Linked DNA regions of Homo sapiens: region 2 is linked to region 1. Evidence: fine-mapped expression QTL. Tissue or cell type: coronary artery. Region 1 holds a variant in brackets; the other region holds the start of a gene. All regions are shown on one strand. Distances are from middle to middle.

Region 1 (8,183 bases):
TGTCCCTGTTTGCAGATGACATGACTGTATATCTAGAAAACCCCACCATCTCAGCCCAAAATCTCCTTGAGCTGATAGGCAACTTCCGCAAAGTCTCAGGATACAAAATCAATGTACAAAAATCACAAGCATTCTTATACACCAATAACAGACAAACAGAGAGCCAAATCATGAGTGAACTCCCATTCACAATTGCTTCAAAGAGAATAAAATACCTAGGAATCCAATTTACAAGGGATGTGAAGGACCTTTTAAGGAGAACTACAAACCACTGCTCAATGAAATAAAAGAGGATACAAACAAATGGAAGAACATTCCATGCTCATGGGTAGGAAGAATCAATATTGTGAAAATGGCCATACTGCCCAAGGTAATTTATAGATTCAATGACATCTCCATCAAGCTACCAATGACTTTCTTCACAGAATTGGAAAAAACTACTTTAAAGTTCATATGGAACCAAAAAAATAGCCCGCATCGCCAAGTCAATCCTAAGCCAAAAGAACAAAGCTGGAGGCATCACACTACCTGACTTCAAACTATACTACAAGGCTACAGTAACCAAAACAGCATGGTACTGGTACCAAAACAGAGATATAGACCAATGGAACAGAACAGAGCCCTCAGAAATAATACCACACATCTACAACTATCTGATCTTTGACAAACCTGACAAAAACAAGAAATGGGGAAAGGATTCCCTATTTAATTAATGGTGCTGGAAAAACTGGCTAGCCATATGTAGAAAGCTGAAACTGGATCCCTTCCTTACACCTTATACAAAAATTAATTCAAGATGGATTAAAAACTTACATGTGAGACCTAAACCAGAAAAACCCTAGAAGAAAACCTAGTCATTACCATTCAGGACATAGGCATGGGCAAGGACTTCATGTCTAAAACACCAAAAGCAATGGCAACAAAAGCCAAAATTGACAAATGGGATCTAATTCAACTGAAGAGCTTCTGCACAGCAAAAGAAACTACCATCAGAGTGAACAGGCAACCTACAGAATGAGAGAAAATTTTTGCAATCTACTCATCTGACAAAAGGCTAATATCCAGAATCTACAATGAACTCAAACAAATCTACAAGAAAAAAACAACCCCATCAAAAAGTGGGCAAAGGATATGAACAGACACTTCTCAAAAGAAGACATTTATGCAGCCAAAAAACACATGAAAAAATGCTCATCATCACTGGCCATCAGAGAAATGCAAATCAAAACCATAATGAGATACCATCTCACACCAGTTAGAATGGCAATCATTAAGTCAGGAAACAACAGGTGCTGGAGAGGATGTGGAGAAATAGAACACTTTTACACTGTTGGTGGGATTGTAAACTAGTTCAACCATTGTGGAAGACAGTGTGGCGATTCCTCAGGGATCTAGAACTAGAAATAACATTTGACCCAGCAATCCCATTACTGGGTATATACCCAAAGGATTATAAATCATGCTGCTATAAAGACACATGCACACATATGTTTATTGTGGCACTATTCACAATAGCAAAGACTTGGAACCAACCCAAATGTCCAACAGTGATTGACTGGATTAAGAAAATGTGGCACATATACACCATGGAATACTATGCAGCCATAAAAAATGATGAGTTCATGTCCTTTGTAGGGACATGGATGAAGCTGGAAACCATCATTCTCAACAAACTATCACAAGGACAAAAAACCAAACACCGCATGTTCTCACTCAAAGGTGGGAATTGAACAATGAGAACACATGGACACAGGAAGGGGAACATCACACACTGGGGACTGTTGTGGGGTTGGGGGAGGGGGGAGGGATAGCATTAGGAGATATACCTAATGTTAAATGACGAGTTAATGGGTGCAGCACACCAAGATGGCACTTGTATACATATGTAACAAACCTGCCTGTTGTGCACATGTACCCTAGAACTTAAAAGTATAATAATAAAATTAAAAAAAAAAAAAACAAAATAAAATTCAGAAATAAATTGGAAAAAAAATTGTGTTTGCTCTAGGATTCCTTCTCTACTGAAAAATTCTGGCCACAAGAAAACCAGCTTTTAGGATTGTGGCACAAAATATTCTACAGCAAATCTCTCTTAGAGAAATCCATTCCTTCTGGGGAGTTTCAACTGTGATTGGATTCCAGGCATATGGAATCCAAGGCAGTAAAATGTCAAAAACTGAGATAAAAGTTGTTCGGGGTCAAAGTGATTAGAATCTTTTTCAGAGGAATCTCCACTCAAACTACCAAACATACCTGCAAACAAGATCCGCTTGTGGGGGATGAGCTGTTCTTGAAGGAAGCTGCTGTTGTATGGAAACTTTTGCAACTAACAAACCTTGGCATTGGGATCACCGATCTGCAGAATCCGACAGAGCTGATGGGGCCCTGATCAATTCCTTTCCCTCATTCCACAGCAAGGTCCCTGTGCAGCTGATGCATGGTATCCACATCTATTCTTAAGCTTAACTTTGCCACAGGATGCATCAGTGAAAAGACATCCGTTTTCTGTCTTTTCTCATGTGCCCCTGGTGGAGGTGCTGATGAAAGGCAGTTCAGGGCGGACTCGGTACCCAAGTGAGCCCACCCTCAGGTGACCTCTCAACGCAGGGCAGTCCTTATGCATGCGCTCTGCTAACCGTCCTACGACAAGTTTCTCTGTTCATGATAAAAAGGAAACCAGCTGGGCGCAGTGGCTCACGCCTGTAATTCCAGCACTTTGGGAGGCTGAGGCGGGTGGATCATGAGGTCAGGAGTTCAAGACTAGCCTGAACGACACGGTGAAACCCCATCTCTACTAAATAATACAAAAAATTAGCCAGGTTTGGTGGTGCATGCCAGTAATCTCAGCTACTCAGGAGGCTGAGGCGGGGGAATAGCTTGAACCCGGGAGGCGGAGGTTGCAATGAGCCGAGATCGTGCCACTGCATTCCAGCCTGGGAGGCAGAGTGAGACTCCGTCTCAACAAAAAAAAAAAAAAAAAAGGGTAACCAATGAAAAAGACAGTCCCTGAACTGAAAGGCAGGCCCTCTGTCCACAAACCGGGGAAACTGCCTCGAGCTCACAGTCCTCCAACCCCTGCTCTGACCCAGAGCTCAAAGTCCACCTGAGGCAGGTGTGAAGAGCCACCAAGAAGGGAAAGAGTACCACCACCAAGTCCCAAAGCACCCTGGCGTCTCTCAGGCCAGATACCCCCGATGTGGATGCCAGATACCACCACACTGCCGAAGCATGAAGAATAATTATGAGGTAGGATTTACTCTCAGAATTTACAAGGTAGATTCACATTTTAGGTAAGGCTTTATCTTTGGAGTGATTTCCCATTCCAGCTTCAGCCACCAAGCAGGAGAAATCCAGTTACAGGAACATGATTTGGTTTCATGAGGAAGCCATGGATAAAATCCAATGCCTTTGCCGTGGTTCCAGGAGAACATGCCATTTCTGCCCTAAGGACCAGCAGTAAGAAGGAACTTCAAAGTGATGTTGACCTTTAACCTGTCTCAAATCTTCCAGAGTTACTATTACTAGGCTATGAGCAATTTCCCTGTGAAGTCATTTGTGTCTGAATTTCTCAAGTAGACTTGCTGTGAGATGTCTTGGGGCTCCCATTTTTCCTCATGTTTTCAGGAGCATTAACCATCTTTGGAAGAAAACCATCGGACTGAAAAGGTACCATGATGGACTAGAGGTAAAACTCTGGCTACGTGTACTTGGACTCTTTCCCCTGAAATCAGAGTTCTTTTTTTTTGTTTAGTAAATAGATCATAAAATATTTGGAGAGGCATTTGTTTTATTTTTCTCTTCTTACAAAAGTTATTCACAAGAATATTACTATCTTACGTTTCTCCCTAATGGTGGTTCCTGGGTCTAATGGAAAAGAACTCATTGTTTGGGAAACCCGTGAGGCTAGACTGTGCCTTGGTTCGCCCCTCAGAATGGGAGGTCAGTGTAGACAAACGAAGACCAGAAGGGTGTTACCAAATGCCCCTCTGCCTGTAGGGACACCAGTCCTGAAATATGAAAACTTTTCTATGGAAGAAGGTGCCAGCGAAGGCTAAATTCTCTGGCATGTCTAGGTATTTTCTGCCAGAGCACACGGTGTGCTTGAGGGGAAAGAAAACTTACCC[C/T]CAGCAGGCTAGGGTACGTTTCCATTTGACTCTGTCTTTTATAGCTTTAAAATTGGTTTCATCTTACAGTTTTTCTGATGGTAATCAGTCTTCAACGTCAGTTTATGTAAGCATTTAATGGCCTCTGAGTTTATCCATGGCTTCGCACACAACTTACTCCCATTGATTCTATTCAGAAAACACTCAGACGCGTGAGCCAGGCAAGAGCCACACCAAGCATGTCACTGCTGGGACGACACGTAACATCCAGCATCTTACATGAGAAACACTTGGGAACAGCCTCTGCCATCACACATGTGGATACCTTCGTACAGAGATCATTCTTAACTGAGAAAAAGAAATACGTTGTAATTGGTTTATGTGCACATTTTACGATTCTTCATCACAGTGTAAAGAAGCCTCATTTTGTACCATAAGCCCCAACAGTGAATTTCCGCCCCCACGAGATTCCACACCCCACACTACACAGAGCATGGAACCTGGCATGTGGCAGGGGCTCTAGAGGTAATTACTGAACAAATATGTGACACATGGATCTATCCACATTCAAAAGGGATCCTCACCCCACCCTTTCTTTTAAGGATTACGTGAAAAGGTTCTCGCAAGAACACAAAGCAAAGGGATCCGAAGCCCACAGGTATCCTTGGCTGGTTCTCAGTGAGGACTTCAGTCCAGGTGTGTCCTGGCTGTCCATGGGCTGGTCACCTGGAGACTGACCAGCCACCTTTTTAGTGCCAAGGAGCAGGGCGGAATAAAGATAATATTGTTAAAATGGCAATTTAATGAAATGAAAGCATCATACTCAAATTACTAGGTTCAGATAACTCAGCTGTCTTGAGCCAGCCCAAGGCATGAGCATTTTGAAGCCCATCCATCAGAAAAGCAATATGATAGCCAAGTTGAGTTGATTCCTTCCATAGATAAGTAGCTGAGGACCTCATTTGTTCAAAGTTTGGAAGCAACAGGCTGGAGGGCGATAAACGCCCTACACTCAGGATGCCACTTCCCCTGGTGCCACACTGGGACCTGTCATGACAGAGAGGGAGATTTGGCTCTGCTGGGCTGGACACTTCGCCACGTGTGGGTCTGCCCTGGATTCTCAGCTCAGGAACTTTGGTAAGAGGACCCACAGGAGTTCAGGCAGGGGTCAGGACTTCACAAAATTGGGCAAAAATCCAGCATTTGATTCCGCTTTATCTTTCTGGTGTGGAGTTTCTCTTTGATATTCACCGTTAAGGGTGATAAGGCACTCCTCCTTCCCTCATTCTTTAGGGGCAAGCAGAGATGAAAGTCAGCTTCCTATCTAAACTGATAGGCCTGGTGAATCCACCCACTCAGCTGCACTTGGCGTCACCAAGATGCCTCTTGACCTGGGGGCTTTCTACGATTTCCATGCTGGGTCTCGCAAGGATATGTTTCCCCTTCAGCCTGAAGTGTCCTCCCCCTACCCCCACTATCAGCTGATTTCTACTTGTCCTTTAGTGCTGGGGGCCACCCTCAGCTTTTGGAGGCCTAGGTCTGGTGCCCCACCAGAACCTGGGGTCTCACAACACGCCTGCTGGGCTGCCTCCACCTCATGCTCACATAGGCTGATGCTGTCTGTTTGCCCGGGGGTCCCCTCCCTCGACTGTACCTGGGGTGGGGACAATAACTTATTTCTGTATACCTAGCGGTTAAAATGTAGTCATGCTGCATAAATAACCATTGCGTGATTGGGCTTGGGGGTAACCATTTGTATCTCTAAAGTGCATTCCAGTATGTCAGACCATGATGACAAGTTTGTGCTGAATGAAACTATACTAGATAGGCAGCCAGTGACTCATTCTTGTGCAAATGAGTACTGCAGGCAGATTTTCAATATATACAATCCACATGGATGTGGGCTCGTGGTCACAGACTCCAGCTGTGAGGATTTGAAAAACAAAAAACTGCTGTGTACCTTAAAATGAATGTGTGACAATTGGCAATCACTCAGAATGACAGTCCAGGTAGGTGAAGCGAACGTGTGCTTATTTTTGCCTGAAGGTTTGCTGAGGCTTCTGTGCCTTGGCAGCTGGAAGGACACACACTAGGCTGCAAGCCAGGGTGGGAGCAGCTACCCAAGGAGGCTTCCAGTATGGTCCATCCTTCCATGGGGGACTCACTGTCATGGCCACAGGGGTCTGACCTCACATTCCAGACAGGGATGTGGCCCAGGCCGGAGTGGATGGAGAAGGGAAAGGGGTGAGCAGGAGAGGAGGACATTACTGTGGCCAGATGAACAGGTCTGCCTAGGTCAAATCAAGGGCTGGTATACAGATCAGAGTCTGGGTAAAGGAAGACCACTTTTGACCTTAATCTGGGTTATCTCAGAAGTGAGATCCTATGTTAGTTAGATGTGTGGTAGAACTTTCCTTAGTGTTCTACATACAGAGTTGCCCAGGGTTGGCGATGGGAGTGGGCCTGGCTGTACCTGACTTGTCTTCTACAGAATCACGCACTTGTAGTCAGTTCTCTTTATGGGAGCTCAGTACAATGTTCAATTTAATAAACAAAGGGTTCCAATGCTTCCATTAAAAAAGAAAAGCCAACAGTAAGTAGTAATCCTTTACCAACTGCAGGAGTTTTGCTCCTAAATGTTGCCTCAGCAGCAATAGGCAAGGTCAAATTCTCATGGGAGCCCAGGAGCTGGGGTACCAATAGAGAAAATGGCATTAAGTATGTCAAAACCAGTAGCAGAAATGGGCAACGCTCTGGAGCTGTGCTGTCCAATAGAACCTTCTGGAATGCTGGGAATATTGTCTGCCTGTGCTGCCCAACACAGGAGCCGCTGGCCGTGTGCAGCAACGGAGTACTCAAAATTTTCCCAGTGAGATGGAAAGATGAACTTTTAAGTTGGTTTCATTTTAATGAATTACAGTTTGGATCGTCTCCAGGGGCCAGTGGCTGCTGAACTGGACAGTGTAGCTACGGAGGCCACTTTCCCCCAAACCAACCTGCTCCTGCCTCTCCTTTCTCTGTTGACCTCAGGAGCCACGTGGCAGGCACAGCTTCTCACACTAAGCTCCGTGCCTCACTGACTAGGTACCCATCTTTAAAATCCACCTGAAATTTCATTTTTAAGTTTCATTTTGCATTTGCATTTCCTCTGGTTTTGCTTTCACAGGGTCCTGCAAAATGTTGGCGCAGTAGGCTGTCTTTCCCGCAGGCATCTAGAAGGAACGTTTCTTCCAGACCAGGTTTCCTATCCACACAGAGAAAAGTGGAGAGGAGAGCATGCCTCACCTTACGGGGCTGTTCTGTGAGACAGGGAGGCATAAATGTGCTTCTGTTCTCTTGTTGGGGGAAAATGAACTGAGAAGCTTCTATGCAGAGCAACTTGTGGAAATTAAAATAAGTTTCTCAGCTTCTTCCTCCCAACACAAGTTCTCCTGGTGATGGGGGGTGAGTGCACACTCGCTAAGGCTGCCAGAGCTCCCTCTCCAGCTGGCTTGCCTGCCTCGTGCTCCCCTCACTAGGTGTCAACTACAGACGCTTTCTTAAACATTGTCCTCCAGGACAGGAGATCAGAAAGTTGTGTCCCATGTAAGACAAAGCAGCCTGCAGCTGCAAAAACCATGCAAGCAGAAAGATGAAGCCGGCCCATCAACCGAATCCTGGCATCCCTCTCTAGGGACAGTGCTAAGGAATGTCTGCCCCTGGGGACCAGGAGGCTCAGGTACTCCGGAGTCACAGCTGGCAGTGGCACCTGAGACCTTCCAGACTGTACGGCTTCATGCACGTTTTAGAAATGTGTTATCCTACTTTTACTAACAGAAAATTCAAACACAGAGCAAACGTCTTCCATCGACAGGTAAAATGATTTGGCAGGTGTCTCTCCCACCTTCTCTGCCTGTGCATCAGAAGGCGAGATGCCAGGAAGTGCTGAGCTCCTGGCCCAGGGCAGCTACCAGTGATTCATGGACCTCAGGCTAAGTGGGGAGCTGTTTCCGTTCATGGCAAACTATTCACTACTAGCAACGTGAAGGCATCATTCTTGCTAAAATGTCCTTTCTTGCTTTTCAGAAATGAAACTGAAGT
Region 2 (8,183 bases), 360 kb before region 1:
TGGCCAGCAAGAGCTCCTTCCAAGGAGGACAAGTGGGAGAATCCAGAGAGCCACGCTGTGGGACGGCTCCTGCGGAACTGGGCGCAGCCTGTGTGTGCTTGGCCTGGGAGATGCCTGTGTGTCACACTAAGCCACTCTAAAAGGACAGGAGTAGGACTGCCCTTTATTCAACAGTGCCGCAGTTTGGGTCCAGGGCTTTTTCAACTCTAGAAATGGCATTGCCTCAAAAAGGCTAACTGAGGGGGCCAATATGAAGTAGGCTTGTTACAACTGTAACTGTCACTCTCTAAAACAGGGTGGCATGCCAAGCCTATTCCACAGCACCTTTGCCAGGCAGACAGAGAACACTCCTTCTCAGAGCCAATCCCCGCTCCACAGGAAGTGAGGATACAGCAAGAGCCAGGCAAGCCGCGCAGATGCCACTGGCTCTCACGCTGCAGGTCCCTCGACAGAGGCCATAAATCTTTCCCTCCGAGCACGTCCAACTTGGGGGTCCTCACAGTGCTGCTATGAACTGGCCAGTCCACTAAATGTCACAGGGAAATGGCTCTCTTGCTGCACCTCTCTGGATAGGGGCCGAGGTCGCTGCTGTTTTAGATCCTGCCAGCTTAGACTGGGTAAGGCCATGCCCAGGGCCAGTGCAATTGGGAATACTGCAGTGACTTCTGAAAAGTGTCCATCCTTCCCCGGAAGCAAAATGCAGCACCCCTAGGACATCGCCAGTGACAGCTGAGGCACATCAACAGCCAATTGCTAAAGCTGGGCCTAGTCTTTAAAAACAAAGCTTAGCTCCCCGCTTGGGTGGTCTGACTGAACTGGCTGTCTGCAGAAGTGACGGCTGGCACTGCAACTGCTAGTCTGGGGGCTTGCCCTGGAACTGTACCCATTGCCATCGAGCCATTGGGGATGACAGTTGTGTTCAAGCTATTAGGGGTCTCACCACTAGCTTGTATTTTAAAGTAGACCAAATAAAAGACAGGCAAGACAATACCAATCAGCAGCATGATGAAAACAGCATTCCACCACTGAATGCCACAATCTGCACCATCCATAGGCGTCTTCGGAGGTGCCGGGAGCAGTGGCTGATGGGAGGTGTCCATGCAGTAACTTTCATGTAGAAAGATTTCTGACTGCACTGCACGCTCAATATCCTGGTCAATCCCCTTAAAGAAGCCCATCAGTTGGCCGGCCTGGGCACCGGTGCCCGCGCCTGCTCTGTCTGCCTCTGGCAGTTCCACGGTCACTGTGGTCTCGGAAGACGGGCTCAGAAGGGGTTTCAGTTCTTTGTGGGTCTCCATCAGGATCCCATGGTTTCTCACTGGAATCTTAACAGATTTCAAAGCATATAAGTCTTGTTCTCTGATGAAGTTGTTGACTTTCTTGATATCTGCAACCTAGGAAGGCACGAAGATAAACATCATAAAATATGCGGAGCTCCTTAAAAATAACTTTCCAAAAAGTGGCTCTTAATCTTTCTGGGTGATGATTCAAGCCCACTTCACTGACGAATCTGATGAAGACTGGAAAACTGCAGCTGTACACAAAGTTAGTTTAGGCTGAAATTTTGTTTTTTTGGCTTTCACTCAACCTCAATATATAGTTTAGTAATCAGATATTCCTAAAGATTTACAGGTTTGAACAATTTAAGATCAGTTTTGAAAAACAGATCTTTCTTAAACTGTTTAAAGTGTGACTGCAACAAATCGCTTTGGGCGAAACCACCATGGCACTGAAAGGAATGTTGCAGCCTTTTCCACCTTTCACTTTTGAGGCAATAGTGCCCCCATCTGCCTGCCTTCCCCCTCATGCCAGAACTCAGTGGCTGCCAGATGTTAGCATTCACCAAACACACAGCCTCAGCCAGCTCTGCAGACACACTCAAAATCCAGTTTACCTGTAATAAAGTTGACAGATATGCCCTCGGCATTTTCTTTCCCAGAAACACTGTGGGGCATGTAAACTTATTAAATAAAAGTGACTTACAGTTACTGTACTTAACTGTCAGGAAAAAGGAATAATGCTGTGAGTTTTATCAAGTAACAAAGTTCATGACAAACTCCTCTCATAATCAAACACGAAGATTTAAGAAGCAGGGAGAATGTAAGTCAAAGGGTAACCCCTCCCTCAAACTAATGTTTGAAAACTTTCCAAAAGCATCAGAGATGAACTCCAAACTTTTAACACTTAAGTCCACTTAAACTAGAAAGTGAATACAGCCAACAGATCTCAATCAAATCAATCATTTCCATTATTATTCAGCAACTGCTGTTATTGTAACTGATTTGGGGTAGGGGACATTTTTAATTCACTATGTCCTGAATCTAATGCATGAGACCCTTGAGATCTTTCTGTCTCTGCCTTCAATAAATTAAGAGCAAATTTATTTACTTCAAATAGGAAAACTGATCACTTATCAAAGGCTTTATATATTCTTTACGGATTTAGACATCACCATACCAAGAAGCCTACTCCATCTATTCCGGTCTTTGTAGGACAGGCTTCATTTTTCAGCCCATGTTCTGTAAGCCACACAGTATGCCTGCAGAAGCTGCTTATCGGAGCCAAATATAATTGTCAGTACAATTTAAAGACCACTATGTGTCCCCGGAGACCAACCTGTTTATTTCCCTGAAAGACCGCAACACCCCACACAACATGTTTCAGACATTTGGACCTTGTTAGATAAGACACTTGTAGGAGAAAGAGATTTCTTAAATTAAGTAGCTTATATACCCCTAGAGAAGGCCATACAAATCTGTAGCACAGTGTTAGCAAAGTGAAACAGTTGCAATCTAGGAGAAAATGCAGCAATTCTAGAAATACTTTCCTACTTACTTTGCCATTGTTAATCACTCTGAATGCTGAAAACATAATTAGAGAAAAACAGGGTTATATAGATACACAGCATACAAAAGACCATGCAGTTCTAAACGAGAGAAGGTAAAACTTTACCAAAAGTCAAGTAAGCTACCACCAAGAAAGGTTCAGAAAAATAAGAGCAGCGAGAAAAGCAAGCATACCATAGAAATCCGGAATTAAATTCTGCCTGGTATCTCCAGCCCCATTAGGTCTAAAATAAAATGTGCTCGAAAGAAGAAAAAAGGTTTCAGAATTTCAGTGTGGAGAAAACAGGAAAAGGAGAAGTTCCCTGCAGAGAAAGAAATGCGCTAACCCTCCCTCTTTGGGGGCCAGGGTTGGGAACTAAAGGTACTCCCACCTGCATTCCAATTCTGGCTAAATAGGGGAGTCCTTGGCTGCTACAGCAGGCCTCTCCTGACGGCCTGGCAGGGTTAAGAAGGGCGGCAAGGGCACCCACCCTGCAGTGAGTTCCCCGTGTTCCTTGAAACGGAGCGGGGCAGGGCCCCTGAGGGGTGTCTTACTTTGCAGCCATACTGCAGCGCCAGCTTGTTGAGGCTGTCCTCCTGGGCCAGCTCCCGCTGCAGCAGCACCACGTCACCTGCTCCCGCCTGGGGAGGCTGGTGGACACCGCTCTTGTGGCGCTCCTTGCCCCGGGGCCGCAAAACCACACGGTGAGACTCTTCTTCAGAAGAGTCCCCCGAGTCCCCACTGCCATTCTTAAACATGTATACGTGGCTGGTCGGAGTCCCACACACAACAGCTGGGCCTTGGAAGGTCTTGGTTAACAATTCCTCGTGCCTCATTTTCTTCACTGAAAATCAAGCCGGAGGGTTAATTCCACAGAAGACATAATCATCCCTCCACCGCCTCGTTTAAAGAGAAGTGTCTTGTTAGAGAGTATTCCTTTTCCTAATCGCTGCAAATACTCAGCATACATCATCAACAGAAAAAAAAGAATGTGCTTATGCTGGCTGAGATGGAAGAAGATAGGCAGAATAAAAACCCTTTGTTTTTTCTAATCGCATACGTTTTGTGCAGAAAACGAACCCCGCCCCTGTTCCTCATCCATAGCTGTCTCCCCTAAACCCACATCTGTAAAGAAACAACTACTTTTGCTCTCAGAGTAGTAAGTTGAGATCCTTGCAATGGCAAGTAAGGGCTGCCGCCAGCCTCCGCGCACTCAGAATCTTCAACTCAGAAGCTTTGCACAATAATTTTGTATTCAATATTTTACACATTGCAAAGTATCTTCACTAAGAAGGTCAGCGCTAAGGACTCTTGCTCAGAACTGTGGGGCTAAACTGCTCTTACTTTGACACAGTTTAACTCACAGTATGTGGGGCAAGCTACGGGGAGAACTCATGCCTGTCAGCCGGAGAAAAGCGTCCAGTTTGCTCACGGGTCACTTTGCATTCATTACATCCCCATTGTCTGGTTTTTATTTTCCCCTTGAGTCAACAGCCAAAGCCGCAAGACCCCTGTTCCTCTCTCCAGATTGTTCGCGTGAGATTCCAGAAACGAAATCTCAAACACGCGGGCTGACAACTTCAGAAAAAGGTGGCTTCGGAGCCACAGGGGAGCAGCCCGTACGGGGACAGCCTGCGGCCCCAGCTCGACCCCCTACTCCCCGCCCACGCCTTCGAGGGTCACAGGCCCACACCCCGCTCCGCGCGCTCCTGAGCCTGCCCGGAGGCGGGAGGCGGCCGGCGGTCCTCGGGGGGTTGAGGGTCACCTGCAGGACCACGGCGGCAGCCCGGGGACGGGGCCAGCCTTCGCGTCCGAGCTCAGGGGCGGCGGCAGCAGCTCCAGGCCCGCTTCCCTCCAAGTCCCTTCTGCGAAAAGATGGGGCACCTCAACAAGAGCTGACAGGAAAATGGGGAGCGGCCCGGCCCCAGGGCTCCACGGCTCCACGGGCGGGGCCCTAACATTCCAGAGGGCAGAACCTCTGACCTCTGACCCCCAACCCTAGCCACCTGGGGCCAGCCCACGACAGTCGCGGTCACCGCCCCTCCAGCTGGAGCGTCCCCCTAGGAGCCCGGGGAGGGGCGGCCCGCCCGCGAACCCTCGAGCGAGGCCAGGTCGCCGTACCGCCATGAGCCCGCGCGGCTCCCTAGCCAGACCGCGGCCCCCTCGTCCAGGCCCCGGTACCTCAGCGCCCAGGCTCCGCCGCGACCGGCGACCGGCGACTCGCGACCCGCGACCCGCGACCCGCAGCTGCCACCGCGCCTGCGGATTGGCTACGAACATCAGCAGGGCCCCCCTGGGGGCGGGACTGGGGAGGCAGCCAATGAAGTCAGCGCTGGGCGGGCACTGGAGCGAGCCTGGCTGCGCGGAGAGCTCATCCCGGGACCACAGGGCCCGGGGCGGGGCTCGGGGCGGGGCTCGGGGCGGGGCTCGACAGGGTTCCACACCCCGGAAGTGGCCCTCGCCCCGCCCACCCGCCTACCAGGTCTACCCGCGCGGGCCCTGGCTTGTTTTCGCGTCTGTTCGGAGTAATAAGGCACCTCAGCTCCTCCCTCCCAAAGTGCTTGGCTTTCTGCTGAGCCGCAGCTTTCTCGCCCGTAAAGAGGCCTTTGACCCCACTTGTGGGTAATGATCTGTAGCTGTGACTCGGGGTGGATTCCAGTAGCGTGGGGTCCCCTGAGCCCTCCTGCGGGGAAGGGCTGGGCGCAGATGGGCGAGGGGTCTTTCTGCGGCGGGATCTGCGCTCCTGGGCCTTTGAGGGCCGCACCAGGGGAGGCATTGCCCCACCCCGAGAAGAAAACAGAAATCCACGAGTGTAAAACATGGATGCGGACAACAGGGACCAAGAAAACTTAAGTCGTGTTTATCAAATGTCAGGTGGCCGAGGATTTCTTAAGATGAAAAGTGGTGGAAGAATTCTCACACACTGGCCGGGCGCGGTGGCTCACGCCCGTAATCCCAGCACTTTGGGAGGCCGAGGCTGGTGGATCACGAGGTCAGGAGTTCGAGACCAGCCTGGCCAAGATGGTGAAACCCCGTCTCTACTAAAAAAATAAAAATAAAAAAAAATAAAAAAGTTAGCCGGGCATGGTGGCGGGCGCCTGTAATCCCAGCTACTCAGGAGGCTGAGACAGAGGATTGCTTGAACCCGGAGGCGGAGGTTGCAGTGAGCCGAGATCGTGCCACTGCACTCCAGCCTGGGCAACAGAGGGAGACTCCATCTCAAAAAAAAACAAAAACAAAAACCTCACACACTAAGGCACAAAGTTCAGAGCTTCTACTTAAAAAGGAAAACCAAAATTAAAAAGCAGATAACCTAGGGAAAATAAACTGAACACAACAAAGGATTAAAATCCTTCGCTGAGAGAGACTTCATATGAATAGGAAAGATGCTAAGACCTCAGCAGGTCTGAGGGAGACCTCAGAGAGACAGGAGCAGATAATTCAGCAAACAATGCAAATGGTCAACAGGTTGAAAATGTTTTTAACCCTCACTTGCAATCAGATTAAACAACAAAGCAAACATTAAAACAAGATCTCACAAACCTTTTCCCACTAATAGGATTTGACTGTGTCCACACCCAAAACTCATCTTGAATTGTAGCTCCCACAGTTTCCACCTGTTGTGGGAGGGACCTGGTGGGAGGTGATTGAATCATGGGAGCAGGTGTTTTCTGTGCTGTTCTCCAGATAGCGAATGAGTCTCACTAGATTTGATGGTTTTATAAAGGGAAGTTGCCCTGCACAAGTTCTTTTCTTCTATCTGCTGCCATGTGAGATGCACCTTTCACCTTCAGCCATTATTGTGAGGCCTCCCCAGCCAGGTGGAACTGTGAGTCCATTAAACCTCTTTCTTTTGCCCAGTCTCGGGTATGTGTTTATCAGCAGGATGAAAACGGACTAATACACCCACTTAAACTAAAAGTCAAATTGTTAATCTTCGTGGACAAAGCCCAAAATGGTCTGGACTCCAGGACTTACCCTCCCCTAACCCCCAGGGTTCTCAAGACTCTGGCCTTGGAATGAGAGTGACATCATCAGCTTCCCTGGTTCTGATGTTTTTGGACCTGCACTGAACCATATTATCTGCATCCCAGGGTCTCCAGCTTGCAGACCCACCTGTCCCGGGACTTTCAGTCTCCTTAATTGTGTGAGCCAAGTCTAATCTCCTCTCTCTCACTCACTCACTTTGTGTCTCTCTCTATAGGTAGAAATAGATATATAGATAGATAGACAGATATCTCCTATTGGTAGGTAGGTAGGTAGATAGATAGATAGATAGATAGATAGATAGATAGATAGATAGATTAGATAGCTCCTATCAGTTCTGTCTCTCTGGAGGACTTGACTCTGTATCTGTAGATAGGTAGATATCTCCTATCGGTTCTGTCTCTCTGGAGGACCTGACTCTGTATCTGTAGATAGATAGGTATCTCCTATTGGTTCTGTCTCTCTGGAGAACCTAATACAGGCTTCAAGGCTCCTTCTCTCAAGCTGCTTGCATTACTGGACTGTCTGAGCCTCAGGCCTCAAAGTAAGTCATCTTCTCAGTGAGTTCTCCCCTGTCCAGCGGGTATATGTAGGTGCTCCCTTAGTGCTCTGTGAGAACACGGTTTCTTCATAGTACTTCCTAGTTCATTTACTTGTCATTTATTGCCAGAATACTACTGTCCCCATACAACTTCCAAGGCCCAGCTGAGTGGCGGCGTCTAGAGGTGCTCATTCAATGTGGGCTCATTAGGAGAGCTGTTCTGATGACCTGACCCAGGATACGGGAAGGCAAACTAAAATTAAAAAGCATATTATCTGGGGAAAATAAATGCATCCCGACAAAGGATTAAAATCCTGAGTTGAGAGCACCAAAATCCAAATCCTAGTGTGTCTATTCCAGAGGCCTGGCTCTCAGCCACCAGCTGTACTTCGGGCCCAAGGCACCTGGCCATGGCCCGGTGGGTTTGGCAAATCCAGGAGTCAGAATTTCAAAGTGTGACTAATGGCAAGAAAAGTCACAACAGAATTTGTAAAGCTGGATTAGTATTGCTGCTTTCTGATCAGTTATGGTTGTTTCATTCATTCAGTGTGTCCAGTACAAAATAAATCCAGACTTAGGATAAAGTTTATTCCAAAAGATTATTGCAAGGTGGTGGGAGGGACTATTGCAATGGGGAGAACTTCTGACCATAAGCTCTGTAACATCTCAAGAGTTAGACAGAAAGTTCTCCTTTCACAGCGAAGTAACAAAGCTAGAAAGAGCACGGTATGGGGAAGCGGGATGAAAGGGTGGTGGGATCTGGTAGTAGATCAGAGAATGTTCTACCCTGGGGTCAGCCAAGTCTCAGGAAGAGCTTATGCTGGCTCAG

Evidence for each region. PIP is the estimated chance that this variant, and not a neighbour inherited with it, causes the effect.
Region 2: LYSMD4 starts here. The variant in region 1 is fine-mapped to the expression of LYSMD4 in coronary artery (GTEx, PIP 0.98).

Annotation. Positions count from the first base shown.
Region 1 is chr15:100,088,048-100,096,230 of GRCh38, forward strand. All of the region lies in intron 15 of ADAMTS17 (ADAM metallopeptidase with thrombospondin type 1 motif 17), which reads right to left. Among named protein-coding and RNA genes, the nearest start is that of ADAMTS17, 250 kb to the right of the region's middle. The variant C/T (reference allele first, on the strand shown) is at 4,125.
Region 2 is chr15:99,728,338-99,736,520 of GRCh38, forward strand. It overlaps LYSMD4 (LysM domain containing 4), which reads right to left and starts at 5,100. Exons shown (of 3, transcript NM_001284417.2): 1 at 5,008-5,100; 2 at 3,381-3,670; 3 at 1-1,394. The coding sequence starts at 3,662. The coding sequence ends at 786. RefSeq lists silencers at 4,550-4,659, 4,700-5,429.